Homo sapiens: one gene and its partner. The protein of the gene in region 1 interacts with the protein of each later gene in a pairwise test. Each region holds a gene or a part of one and is shown in the gene's direction. Other genes may lie near its edges.

Region 1 (7,027 bases):
GGGGCCAGGTGCCATGGCTCACGCCTGTAATCCTAGCACTTTGGGAGGCCGAGGCGGGTGGATCACAAGGTCAGGAGATTGAGACCATTCTGGCTAATGTGGTGAAACCCCACATCTACTAAAAATACAAAAAAAAATTAGCCGGGCATGGTGGCGGGCGCCTGTAGTCCCAGCTACTTGGGAGGCTGAGGCAGGAGAATGGCGTGAACCCGGGAGGCAGAGCTTGCAGTGAGCTGAGATCACGCCACTGCACTCCAGCCTGGGTGACAGAGCGAGACTCCATCTGAAAAAAAAAAAAAAAATTAGCTGGATATGGTGGTGCACGCCCATGATCCCAGCTACTTGGAAGGCTGAGGCACAAGAATTGCTTGAACCTGGGAGGCAGAGGCTACAGTGAGCGGAGATCACGCCACTGCACTCCAGCCTGGGCGACAGAGCAAGACTCTGTCTCCAAAAAAAAGAAAGAAAGAAAAGAAAAAAAAAACCAAGGTCCAGAGCAATTCACTAACTTACCCAAAGCAGGGCCGCTAGAGATGGTTGTGCACATTACTCCCTACATAGGGATGTCTGGCCAAGGATCCACACTCCACTGGCCGTGCTGTGTACCCGCCCAGCAGCATCACCCAACCCAGAGAGTGCGCCTTTTCCACTCTACATGAAGGTGCTCTGTGGACTTACTGTAAACAGCCTCCTCAGTAGTCAGTCAGTAGTAGAGACAGAATCCAAACCCAGGTCTGATTCCAAAGCCTCTGTTTTGTTTCTGTTTTCTGTTTGTTTTTTTTTGAGACAGGGTCTTGCTCTGTCACTCAGGATGGAATGCAGTAGTGTTGTGATCATAGCTTACTGCAGCCTCGAACTCCTGGGCTCAAATGATCCAAAGCATTGGGATTACAGGCATGAGCCACCATACCCAGCCAGCCAAAGCCTCTGTTTTTGCCCATATCACACTCATTCTCCTCCAGAAGACAAGGGCCATATCTGGTTAATCTCCTGCTGTTCCACTCAATGCCTGGCTCATCATAGGTGGGCAGTAAATGCTTATCAGTGAGTAACTGGAGAACAACATGGCCCTTCCTTATAGGCCAAAAAGCAAATGGATTTCCACCTGACAAATCTTCGGGATCCAAGAAGCAGAAACAATATCAGCGGATTCGGAAGGAGAAGCCTCAACAACACAACTTCACCCACCGCCTCCTGGCTGCAGCTCTGAAGGTACGTGGGGTACCTGGCACAGCGTGCACCCTGAGACTCAGCCCCACAGGCTTTTCCTCTGGAGTATTCCATGCATGTTACAGGCTCTCCTGCCTCTGATCAGAATCAGCGGGGGTGCTTAATTCTGTCCCCTCTCATCGCAGCCCAATCTCAGCTTGCTGTTAATCCAGGCCACAGGGCCCCATCTCCCCGGCTCCAGGTTTGGCTTCCCCATCTCCCCCAGGAGCTCCTATTGACACTTCCTGCCACCCTTCCCCTAGAGCCACAGCGGGAACATATCTTGCATGGACTTTAGCAGCAATGGCAAATACCTGGCTACCTGTGCAGATGATCGCACCATCCGCATCTGGAGCACCAAGGACTTCCTGCAGCGAGAGCACCGCAGCATGAGAGCCAACGTGGAGCTGGACCACGCCACCCTGGTGCGCTTCAGCCCTGACTGCAGGTGGGACAAGACGGAGCCTCAGGTTTGCCTGCAGAGGCCTAGTCCCAGGCTTTGGCCTTCCCATATCTGCTTTGAGGTAGTGAGGAGGGACCTGGACCCAGGGCCTCCCTTGGGGTGCCAGAAAGAGCATCCACATAGTTTGCGCGCTGCCTGGGGCTCCCTGGAGATCTGGGCTGCTATACAGCAAGGAAACAGGGGGAGGTCTCTTCCTACCTGGAAATACCTTGGCCTGGCTTCCAGATGAGCCTTAGTTTCTAAACCCTAGAGAGAAACTAAAGGAGCCAAAGCTATCAGAATCTTACCTTTTGAGGAGTTTTATGAGATTTGGAACCAGGGGCTTAAGTTTTAAGGCTAGACTGTGGGGCATGAGGAGAGATCTTGACTTCCCCGAGAACCCAGCACAGGACCTGGAACACAGAGCCTCTTTGTCCAGTGAGAGCGTGACTTGTCTGCTGCCTGTCTCTAGAGCCTTCATCGTCTGGCTGGCCAACGGGGACACCCTCCGTGTCTTCAAGATGACCAAGCGGGAGGATGGGGGCTACACCTTCACAGCCACCCCAGAGGACTTCCCTAAAAAGCACAAGGCGCCTGTCATCGACATTGGCATTGCTAACACAGGTAAGAGGCATTCAGAGGGTGGCGCCTGCCCAAAGCATGAAGGAAAGATCCAGTTCTATTTCCTCAATGAGTTAATGCTGCCTGAAAGTTCTGCTCAACCTGAGAGGAACAAGGGGTCCCTGGCTCTGAACAGCCTGGCTCTGTGCTCCCCTGGAGTCCCTGGGCCACACCAGGTCCCTAGGGAAGGTGGGGAAGGGCCACAGTCTTCAGCAGAGTCCTTATCTGTAGTGACCCTTGGCCTGGGAGGAGACATGTATACTTCGGGCAGCAGAGGCCTTGTAAGTGTCTTTGGAGAGTGACAGTTGGTCAGGTCACTGCCCGTGACCCACATCACTCCCTTCCCGCTCAGGGAAGTTTATCATGACTGCCTCCAGTGACACCACTGTCCTCATCTGGAGCCTGAAGGGTCAAGTGCTGTCTACCATCAACACCAACCAGATGAACAACACACACGCTGCTGTATCTCCCTGTGGCAGGTGGGCAAGGAGGGGTATTGGCGTCTGGGACCACGAGAGGCTGGGGCTGGGGAGCAGGCACAGAACAGAGAGCCAGCTTCATCGCGTGGGAAGAGCATACGGGGTGGGGTCAGGAACCCGAGCTTCAAGTCTCAGCTCTCCCCACTTGCAGTAGTGGGATTTCATGCAGGTCGCCCCATGTCCTTAGTCGCTATTTCTTCATCTTCAGTGTTTTTGTTTTTTAGAAAATTAGTCTCACTCTGTCACCCAGGCTGGAGCACAGTGGTGCGATCATAGCTCACTGCAGCCTCAAACTCCTGGGTTGTAGCTATTCTCCCAGCTCAGCCTCCTGAGTAGTCAGGACTATAGGCATGTGCCACTGTACTCAGCTAATTTTTGTTTTTTGTTTGTTTGTTTGTTGAGACGGTTTCACCCTCGCCCAGGCAGGAGTGCAGTGGCGCAATCACAGCTCACTGTAGCCTTGACTTCCCAGGCTCAGACCATCCTCCCACCTTAGCCTCCCGAGTAGCTGGGACTACAGGCGTGCACTACCACACCTGGCTAATTTTTGTATTTTTTGTTGAGATGGGGTCTTACTATGTTGCCCAGGCTGGTCCTGAACTCCTGGCCTCAAGTGATCCTCTTGCCTCGACCTCCCAAAGTGGTAGAATTACAGGCGTGAGCCACTGTGCCAAGCCACCTTTGGGCGGGGATGTTACATATCTTAGAACAAGGCTAGAAGATAAACTGAGGTCACATACATAAAAGAACTTTTTTGTTGTGGTTGTTTGTTTGTTTTTTGAGATGGAGTTTCGCTCTTGTTGCTTAGGTTGGAGTGCAATGGCAGGATCTTGGCTCACCACAACCTCCGTCTCCCGGGTTCAAGCGATTCTCCTGCCTCAGCCTCCCCCAAGTAGCTGGGATTACAGGCATGCACCACCATGCCCAGCTAATTTTTTATTTTTAGTAGAGGTGAGGTTTCTCCATGTTGGTCAGGCTGGTCTCAAACTGTCGGACCTTAGGTGAGCTGCCCGCCTGGGCCTCCCAAAGTGCTGGGATTACAGGTATGAGCCACCACACCCGGCCTTTTTTTTTTTTTTTTTCTGAGACAGTCTCACTCTGTTGCCCAGGCTGGAGTGCAGTGGTGCAATCTCAATCTCAGCTCACTGCAACCTCCACCTACCAGGTTCAAGTGATTCTCCCACCTCAGCCTTCCCAGTAGGTGGGACTACAGGCATGCGCCACCACGCCTGGCTAATTTTGTATTTTTAGTAGAGATGAGGTTTCACCATGTTGGCCAGGCTGGTCTCGAACTCCTGACCTCAGGTGATCCACCCACCTCGGCCTCCCAAAGTGCTGGGATGACAGGCGTGAGCCACCGCGCCCGGCCAAAATAACTCTTTAAAGGTTTATATTATCCAGATATGAGGATTATCAACTTTCTCAGGAAAGAGATTGAGGGGTTTTACAGGAACAACATGCTCCGAAAATGAAGTTTTAAAGGCTTCTGGGTTGTATGGCAGATTTGTAGCCTCGTGTGGCTTCACCCCAGATGTGAAGGTTTGGGAAGTCTGCTTTGGAAAGAAGGGGGAGTTCCAGGAGGTGGTGCGAGCCTTCGAACTAAAGGGCCACTCCGCGGCTGTGCACTCGTTTGCTTTCTCCAACGACTCACGGAGGTGAGTGAATCCGCTCTGATGTCTGACCAGTGGCTCTTGGCCCCTCTTGACAACCAGGGTCCTTCTGTCTGTTTGTGCCATGGCTCTGAAGAGGGTGGGGTGCCTGGCCCTCGGCAGGAAGCTGACTTAGCTTCCTAGCTGGAGCTGCTCAAGTTGGGCCAGTGCTTACCCTGCCAGGGTGTGTTGGGGCTTGAGCTGTGATTTTCTGTGTTGCAGGATGGCTTCTGTCTCCAAGGATGGTACATGGAAACTGTGGGACACAGATGTGGAATACAAGAAGAAGCAGGACCCCTACTTGCTGAAGACAGGCCGCTTTGAAGAGGCGGCGGGTGCCGCGCCGTGCCGCCTGGCCCTCTCCCCCAACGCCCAGGTCTTGGCCTTGGCCAGTGGCAGTAGTATTCATCTCTACAATACCCGGCGGGGCGAGAAGGAGGAGTGCTTTGAGCGGGTCCATGGCGAGTGTATCGCCAACTTGTCCTTTGACATCACTGGCCGCTTTCTGGCCTCCTGTGGGGACCGGGCGGTGCGGCTGTTTCACAACACTCCTGGCCACCGAGCCATGGTGGAGGAGATGCAGGGCCACCTGAAGCGGGCCTCCAACGAGAGCACCCGCCAGAGGCTGCAGCAGCAGCTGACCCAGGCCCAAGAGACCCTGAAGAGCCTGGGTGCCCTGAAGAAGTGACTCTGGGAGGGCCCGGCGCAGAGGATTGAGGAGGAGGGATCTGGCCTCCTCATGGCACTGCTGCCATCTTTCCTCCCAGGTGGAAGCCTTTCAGAAGGAGTCTCCTGGTTTTCTTACTGGTGGCCCTGCTTCTTCCCATTGAAACTACTCTTGTCTACTTAGGTCTCTCTCTTCTTGCTGGCTGTGACTCCTCCCTGACTAGTGGCCAAGGTGCTTTTCTTCCTCCCAGGCCCAGTGGGTGGAATCTGTCCCCACCTGGCACTGAGGAGAATGGTAGAGAGGAGAGGAGAGAGAGAGAGAATGTGATTTTTGGCCTTGTGGCAGCACATCCTCACACCCAAAGAAGTTTGTAAATGTTCCAGAACAACCTAGAGAACACCTGAGTACTAAGCAGCAGTTTTGCAAGGATGGGAGACTGGGATAGCTTCCCATCACAGAACTGTGTTCCATCAAAAAGACACTAAGGGATTTCCTTCTGGGCCTCAGTTCTATTTGTAAGATGGAGAATAATCCTCTCTGTGAACTCCTTGCAAAGATGATATGAGGCTAAGAGAATATCAAGTCCCCAGGTCTGGAAGAAAAGTAGAAAAGAGTAGTACTATTGTCCAATGTCATGAAAGTGGTAAAAGTGGGAACCAGTGTGCTTTGAAACCAAATTAGAAACACATTCCTTGGGAAGGCAAAGTTTTCTGGGACTTGATCATACATTTTATATGGTTGGGACTTCTCTCTTCGGGAGATGATATCTTGTTTAAGGAGACCTCTTTTCAGTTCATCAAGTTCATCAGATATTTGAGTGCCCACTCTGTGCCCAAATAAATATGAGCTGGGGATTAAATACGAATAAGACATGGTTTCTGCCATCAAAGATGGCTGGTGGGAGAGAGAGATACACCCTTATTAAGTGCTTTGTGTTAGTTTATTCATAGCTATTGTTATATATGTCAAGGCAAGAGAGGACCAGAGCAGGACAGAGGCAATGGGTATTGAAGTTGAAGGGGTACATTTGATAAGAGAGTCGGTATTGAGAAGTTTAAATTTGTGAATTTGAAGGCTGCGTGGGTGTGGCAGGTAAGGGAAATGAGGTATCTGGGAAGGCTTGAGTGTAGGCAAATTTATTCATCCCAAGTCAAACTCTTGATCTCTCTCACGAAAACTATGACCCCCCCTGGTTGCCCCTGACCTCTCAATGTTGGAACAAGCCACAACCGTGGAGTTATCCTTGATGACTCCCCATTCATTATCCCTTCTGTCCCACCACCACAGCTGTCATCTGTTCACCAGAACGTTCTTTTGGTTACACTCCATGTGACATCCTGAGGCTGTTGCTTCTCTCCAGCTTTTCTGTTACCATCCTGGTCCTGGCTACTGTCACCTAGTGGGCCACTATAATATGGCTTCCTAATGGATCTTCCTGCTTCCTCTGTTGCCTCATTACTTTTCTATATAGCAGAATGATCTTTTGAAAATGTGAACCAGATCACATTATTCCCTAGTTAAAACCCCCCAAGGCTTCCCATCACACTTGGAATAAAATCCAAAAGAATTTTTCTAAACCAAAAATAGTAAAAACAATTTTTTTTTTCTGACAATCTCTTGTCACCCAGGCTGGAGTACAATGGCGCAATCTCGGCTCACTGCAACCGCCGCCTCCTAGGTTCAAGCGATTCTCCTGCCTCAGCCTCCAGAGTAGCTGGGATTACAGGCATGTGCCACCACGCCTGGCTAATTTTTGTATTTTTAGTAGAGACAGGGTTTCACGATGTTGGCCAGGCTGCTCTCGAACTCCTGACCTCAAATGATCCACCACCCCCCTTGGCCTCCCCAAGTGCTGGGATTACAGGTGTGAGCCATCGTGCCTAGCTAAAAACACTTAATCCAAAATTCTTACCATGGCCTGCAAGGTCCTGTGTAACCTGGCTTCGTCCCCCCTCTAAAT
Region 2 (7,027 bases), on another chromosome or scaffold:
CACTTGGAAATGGAAAGGGACTTATGATGAGATGAGATAAATATATATTTTTTTTTTTTTTTGGAGATGGAGTTTTGCTCTCGTCGCACAGGCTGGAGTGCCATGGTGCGATCGTGGCTCACCGCAAATTCTGCCTCCCGGGTTCAAGCGATTCTCCTCCCTCAGCCTCCCGAGTAGCTGGGATTATAGGCGTGCACCACCACGCGCAGCTGATTTTTATATTTTTAGTAGAGACGGGTTGTCACCATGTTGGCCGGGATGGTTTCGAACTCCTGACCTCAGGTGATCTGCCCGCCTCAGCCTCCCAAAGTGCTGGGATGACAGGCATGAGCCACCGTGCCCGGCTACCAGGTTTGGGTTTCTTTGGTCAGAATCACGTTTTCACCCTGGCAGTGACTTGTCTTGATTGTTACTTAAGGTTTTAGATGCCACAAAGCGGTTAGGCTGTGAGGAAATGGAAGGATACGGACCTCTTAAAGCACACCCGTTCTTCGAGTCCGTCACGTGGGAGAACCTGCACCAGCAGACGCCTCCGAAGCTCACCGCTTACCTGCCGGCTATGTCGGAAGACGACGAGGACTGCTATGGCAATGTAAGCTGGCCGGGATGGCGGGCGAGGCAGGTGGCACTGGGTCCTCCGTGCACTGGGCTTCATGCCCGTGCGCCAGACCCACGTGTGATTTGTAGCCGAAAGGGGAGGGTGTCTGTGCCACTGCGGCAGGCCTGCTGGTGGTTGTAGTCTTTGCTGCCGTGAGGCAGTGGCGGGTGAGGTGCTGGGTGGGTCATTTTCTCCTCATTTCCGTGGCCGTGGACAGGCTAGTGAGTTTCCACCCACAGGGTGCCGCTAGAACCGGACGCCGAGCACCCCCGGCACTGGCCCCGGGGTCCCACGTACGGGGCCTCCTGCCCGGCCTGTCGCATCTGCGCTTGGCTTGGTGCTTGTACAACTGTGCGGCCAAGATGCTCCAGAACACTGCCTGTCTTTCCACAGAAACCCCCGAGTGTTGTGTGCTTGAACTTTTGGGACGTGGCGTTGGTGGGGACACTGGTACCTTCTTCAGTGCTGAGTAGGCTCTGAGGCTGCTGGTCTCCCAGCTTGACCACAGCCATGGGGTCTTCAGCACGCTTGGCTCTTTAAGCTTCTCGTAGAGAGCGTGGACCATGTGCCCAAGGGACCGAGGGTGTTGTGAGAGGCAGGCATGTCGCCCACTTCAGCCTTGTTTCCTCTGAGTTCCTCTTGCCACCTCCCCCGTGACCCCCTCGTACTTAAGTGCTGTTATCATGAGATCCATTTTTCTGGTTTGACTTCTGTCGCCATGGCTTATTCTAACTGGCACCGTGTACGGAGTTCCACTTTCCATGACTGAGGAAGTCCAGATTTTGTTTGTTTTGAGACAGGGTCTTGGTGTGTCACTCAGGCTGGAGTGTAGTGGCGCGATCTCGGCTCACTGCAACCTCTGCCGCTGTGGGTTCAAGCGATTCTCCTGTCTCGCCCTCCCGACTAGCGGGAACTGCAGGTGTGCACCACCATGCCCGGCTAATTTTTGTATTTTTAGTAGAGACAGGGTTTCGCCGTGTTGGCCAGGCTGGTGTGGAACTCCTGACCTCAAGTGATCTACCCGCCTCGGCCTCCCAAACTGCTGGGGTTTTAGGCATGAGTTACTGCACCCAGCTGGGAATTCTAGATTTTATCTAAAAGTCATCCACAGCTAAATTTCTGCTAGTGTCAAAGTTTCCCAACGCCCCTACCTGCTGTGTAACGCCCCTCATCCTCCCGACATCCTTTGAGCCCAAACTCTAAGGGAGCCAGGCTTGGGGAGCGGAGTCTGTGCCGCTTGATGTGGCCACCTGCAGCTTTCATGTATGCAGAGGCCTGGGAGCCTCGAGGCCCTTGCCCCCACCCTGTGTGCCACTCAGCTGCTCCTGCGTGGTGTTTGGTTACGGCTGGCAGGTGCCACGGGGCTGCAGTGCTCTCCCTGCTGGGCCTGCTGTTGCTGCAGAGGTTTTGCTCGCGACTGGCTGGTGGCCGTTCTCCCGTGGGCTCTGTGCTCCATTGCTCCCAGGGAGGTAGCTGGGCTCTGAAGGAGCAGCACAGGCTTCAGTTGTCTCCAGTCTCAATGCCTGGGGAGCTTCTCTGAGTGTGGGGGTGTGTGTGCTTGCACTTGCCGCATACCTGTGCAGGCCCCTGTGCCTGGGCCTACTGAGAGCTGGGGCTGCTTGATACGTGGCTTCTGTTGCCGTCTGTGAAGCCAGGCTCCATTTGTTGGCAGCCGCCTGTTAGATGGCCCATCCTTAGCTCTGCACAGCTGTGTGGTTTGAAAGCCTTGGAGTGGGTCCAGGCAGGGAGCTCCCAGGCCAGACCTCACACGGGGACAGTGAGTGAGTCTTGGCAAACGGTGTCAAGCATGGAAGGAGACTTCAGGGCTGTACCTCCTCCCTCCCTGCAGGGCCGCACCCCCTCCTTCATGGGGAATGGGCACTGGGCGTCCCCTTCAGCCAGGGAGGTTGGCCATGGTACCTGCCCTTGGGCCAAGGCAGGAGAGCAGGTGCTTCGTTGGCTCCTGCTCTCCTGAGGTCCTGTAAGTGCCGGGGCAGTGTGACCATTGGGCAGTGTTGGAGACAAGCAGGCTGGGCAGGCCCACACCCCGTGGAGGGGTCGGCGTGGAGGGGCCGGCGTGGAGGGGCCGGCAGCGTCGGGCGTTTCCACCATGCCCGTTGGCGAGCACCTTGCTCCAGCCCAGCTGGGTGCGAGGCTTTAGGGCTGTGAGGCGGGGCTGTGGTGCAGCTGTAGGAGTGTGAACACATGGGGGACGCTGCATGTGTGGATGGTTGCGTGGGGCAGCAGCCAGGGCCTGCGTCTGGAGGCACGGAGGACGTGGAAGGGCATGCCGCACTCTTATCCTAGCCATTGCTCGTGGCACCTTTTCTTTCCCCTTGTCCTTGGCCTCCACAGAGCTCAGATGTGGGGCCTGCAGCCGGGGAGGTGGCTTCCCTTGCCCAGGGACTCTCTGGCCTTGGCAGTGCCAGGAGCGTGTTAGTGCACAGGCTGTGTCCGCTTGGCACGTTTATGAGTGAGTTTCCGTTGTCGACACTAGCTTGTCTTTTTCCTAGAGTAACAGGCAGCGTTATCTACAGTAAGTTTAGTTTATCTTTGCTGGGATTAAGAGGAATGTCTTTTAAACAATTGAATGTGTTTAGTCAAATCAAAATATTTAGCATCTACCACAGACTCAGACTCCTAAGACACCTGGGGCCCAACAAGGTCTTGCACGGAGGCCCTGTCTGCCAGCCTGTGTGATGGATCTGCCACCAGGCCTCCTTGGGCCCCTTCTCTTCCCAGCAGGCATCCCAGCCCCCACCTCCGGGGGGCAGCACTGGCATTCACGGGGCCCGCAGGGTAAGGGCCCAGGTCCCCTCTTCCTGGAGAGGAAATCTGAGGCTTCGCCCCTCTCTGGCCCTGATTCCCATGGGAAGAGGAGCCCGACCAGGCAGGATCCAGTGAGGCCTCGGTTCTGTGGCCAGGTGTCCCATGGAGGAGAATCAGGGCTGCCCACCCTGTCGCCTTGCGCCTTGCTGTGTGCGAGCTCCCAAGGCCTGACAGCGGCAGTGCGGGAGGGGCTGGGGTTTTAGGACCTTAGAGGCAAGTGAAGGTGCGGTTCTCACTTTCCCTTCTTCTCTGCAGTATGACAATCTCCTGAGCCAGTTTGGCTGCATGCAGGTGTCTTCGTCCTCCTCCTCACACTCCCTGTCAGCCTCCGACACGGGCCTGCCCCAGAGGTCAGGCAGCAACATAGAGCAGTACATTCACGATCTGGACTCGAACTCCTTTGAACTGGACTTACAGTTTTCCGAAGATGAGAAGAGGTTGTTGTTGGAGAAGCAGGCTGGCGGAAACCCTTGGTAAGAACTTATGGACATAAGCAATGCTTTTTGCAGAATTGCAGCGTGAACACGTGGGGGCTTATGGTGGGTGCCTTTGCCTTGTCACTGCCTCCCTCAGCAGCCTTGGACGCTTGGCCAAGGAGCACATCGTAAGTGCACAGTTGGAAACAGGTGCTTAGGAGGCAGCCGGCCCAGGGGCTGAGTGGGTTGTGACCGCCGGGCGCTCCCCTCCTCTGCCGGGCATTTGGACCTGCTGGTTGTGGCCATGGAGTCACTGTGGTATGGACAGACGCGGCCTGGACCTGGCCACTTGGGAGTTTATGAGGTTTGCTGTTGTAGCCCCTCTTTTCCACATAGCTTTCCCCACTTGTCCATTTATGTCTTCTAAGGTGAGTGCCAGGGGCAGTGTGTGATGGAGGGCGTGCGTGTTTTCAGGGCTGGGGATCTGTCGCGGGGGCGCCAGGAATCTGCCTTTCCCAATGCTCTTGCCTGCCTGAGAGTGTTTTGATGCTCCAAAAACAAACTTGTGAATTTCTGTTTTATTCCTATTGAGGCAGATGTCTCCTGTGTTCATGACCATTTGTGTTTCTTTTTTGAGGTACTTTGTGTCCTTTGACTATTCTTTCTTGTATATTTTGCATCTTTTTTTTTGAGACAGAGTGTTGCTCTGTCACCCAGGCTGGAATGCAGTGGCGCGATCTCAGCTCACTGCAACCTCTGCCTCCTGGGTTCAAGCAATTCTCCTGCCTCAACCTCTCAAGTAGCCGGAATTACAGGCACCTGCCACCACACCTGGTTAATTTTTGTATTTTTTGATAGAGACAGGCTTTCCCTGTGTTGGCCAGGCTGGTGCCTCTTTTTAACATGGATTTTTAAAAGCCACGTGTATGGAGACTATTCCTTGTTGTATGTTTTGCAAACATTCTTCAGTTTCTCTCCAGTCTCGATACTGTGTTTTTGTATGGAAGCTGCAAATTCTTACCAAGTCCATCCTGTCCCTATTTATATTTTATGTTTTCCATTTTAATCTGGTAAGACGGGCTTCCCCCCTAATATTTTTACCTGCTTTTCCCTTTTGTGTGGGCAGAGAGGAGCCCAAGGGGGTGGGGAGAGGGCCTTGCAGGAAGGCATGCTGGAGTGGAAGCACAAGACGAGGGGGAGTTGAGGGCCTGGCTAGGCAGGGACAGGACACATGTGACTTGAGAGACTTGTGGGGAGGAATGAGAGGAAGGAGCTGAGCTCTGGGCCGCCCCGGCAGGTGGGGAAGACCACGGCTCTATGCGGTTCGCCACACCTGTCTCTAGAAAACCTGTGCAGAGATGCTGGCAGGCAGCAACAGTCTACAGCTAGGGGCTCTGAATCACACCTAGTGTGATTGCTAGAGATGTTAATGTGTACTGAGCAGGAGAGGAGGGCTCTTGATGGGAGCAATCTGAGCCGTGCTGTGCTGCGCAGCTCCAAGCAGCAAGGAGGCGTGTGCCTGGCTATGCAAGGAGCTTCCCGGGCTCGTGTGTGCTGGGGTCCCCACGAAGGGCTGCTGTGGCCACTCCAAGTACTTGGCCAGGAGCGCTCTCTCTGCAGATCCCAGCTGAGAGGTGCTGTCTGCAGGTGTGTGTGTGTTTCAGCTCCTTTGGTGACTCCCAGAAGAGGCCCCTCTGCCTGGGGCTGTTCTTAGAGGGCCTTGGGGTCCGTCTGGGTACCTTAGCCTGGTGATGGCGGCAAGTCAGGATACACATTCTCCTGCCTGCTTCCTTTGTCTTCAGGTTTCTCTTTCCCCTTCCCACTTCCTTCAGATTTTAGGTCCTTTTGGGAAGCTGATGACTCCTGAGATCTTGCAGGATCTGTCTGGCTGCTGGGAGGTCTGTCCAGCACCTGCTCTTTACAGTAGTGGTTTGCATTCTCAGTGTGTGGCCACCAAATCCCCGAGGTCAGGGCAGTTTTTTTTGTAATACTAAGATGTTATTTGCCTTTTTGCTGTCATTCTCTGTGCGTGTATGGTGAGTTTTTCAGTGGTCACATGCTGTAGAATGGAATCTGCGTGCTTTTGGTCTTTTCTAAGGTCATAGGTTTTTGGTATCAATATGTTTTGTTTTTTAAATGAGAGAGAGTCTTGCTCTGTCGCCCAGGCTGGAGTGCAGTGGCGTGATCTCTGCTCACACAACCTCCGCCTCCTGGGTTAAAGTGATTCTCCTGTCTCAGCCTCCTGAGTAGCTGGGATTACAGGCACATGCCACCACGTCCAGCTAATTTTTGTATTTTTAGTAGAGAAGGGGTTTCACCATGTTGGCCAGTCTGGTTTCGAACTCCTGACCTCGAGTGATCTGCCCACCTCGGCTTCTCAAAGTGCTGGGATTTCAGGTGTGAGCCACCGCGCCAGCCAATGTATGCATTTTTTGAGATTAATATTCAATATTTCTACTGAGCTCTTACTATCTCTTCATTTATACCTGCTATAGCCTCTGTAATTTTATCATCCACTGAATCATTATTTTGAAATCCTGAAGTTTTCCTTGTGCCTACATGAGAATACGGTAAGTTAAGTTCAGGATCACACCTGTAATCCCAGCACTTTGGAGGCCAAGGTGGGTGGATCACTTGAGCCAGGAATTCGAGAGCAGCCTGGGCAAGAAACTGAAACCCTGTCTCTACAAAAAATACAAAAATCAACCAGGCATGGTGCTGCACACCTGTAGTCCTAGCTGCTTGGGGAGGTTGAGGTAGGAGGATTACCTGAGCCTTGGAAGTTGAAGCTGCAGTGAGCAGAGAGCTTGCCACTGCCCCCCAGCCTGGGTGACAGAGTGAGACCCTGTCTCAAAATTGGAAAAAAAAAAAAAAAAAAGGTAAAAGGAATTTTTAAATTTACATGGAATAGTTTACACTTAAAAGGAACATTTCAAAAATATGTGTGATGAGCTCTTTAAAATCCAATGTTGTTTGTAACAGCTTTTCAGACAATAAATTAAAGAGTCACTGAAGCTCTTAGAAGCTGCATTGTAGAGGCTGGAGAGGCCACACGGTAGCTGAGAGACAAAGCCTCCGGCTGCAGCACAGCCTCAGGCTTGGTCATCCTGTGCTGCCACAGTCCACAATGCAGTCGAAACTTGCTGGATTCAAGATACGACTGCAGGCACGAAGAGGGAGTTGA

The links. Proteins that work in one complex are often made in the same cells at the same time.
Region 2: the proteins of TBL2 (region 1) and PDPK1 interact in binary tests that used the Homo sapiens proteins (3 or more experiments, as listed by UniProt).

Annotation. Positions count from the first base shown.
Region 1 is NC_000007.14:73,568,568-73,575,594, reverse strand, and holds part of TBL2 (transducin beta-like protein 2), read left to right. Parts: intron 1-1,081; coding exon 1,082-1,212; intron 1,213-1,472; coding exon 1,473-1,657; intron 1,658-2,123; coding exon 2,124-2,275; intron 2,276-2,624; coding exon 2,625-2,751; intron 2,752-3,559; coding exon of another isoform or gene 3,560-3,647; exon of another isoform or gene 3,648-3,840; intron 3,841-4,253; coding exon 4,254-4,406; intron 4,407-4,622; coding exon 4,623-5,088; 3' UTR 5,089-7,027.
Region 2 is NC_000016.10:2,582,994-2,590,020, forward strand, and holds part of PDPK1 (3-phosphoinositide-dependent protein kinase 1), read left to right. Parts: intron 1-418; coding exon 419-592; intron 593-3,682; coding exon 3,683-3,900; intron 3,901-7,027. UniProt on the Homo sapiens protein: Serine/threonine kinase which acts as a master kinase, phosphorylating and activating a subgroup of the AGC family of protein kinases.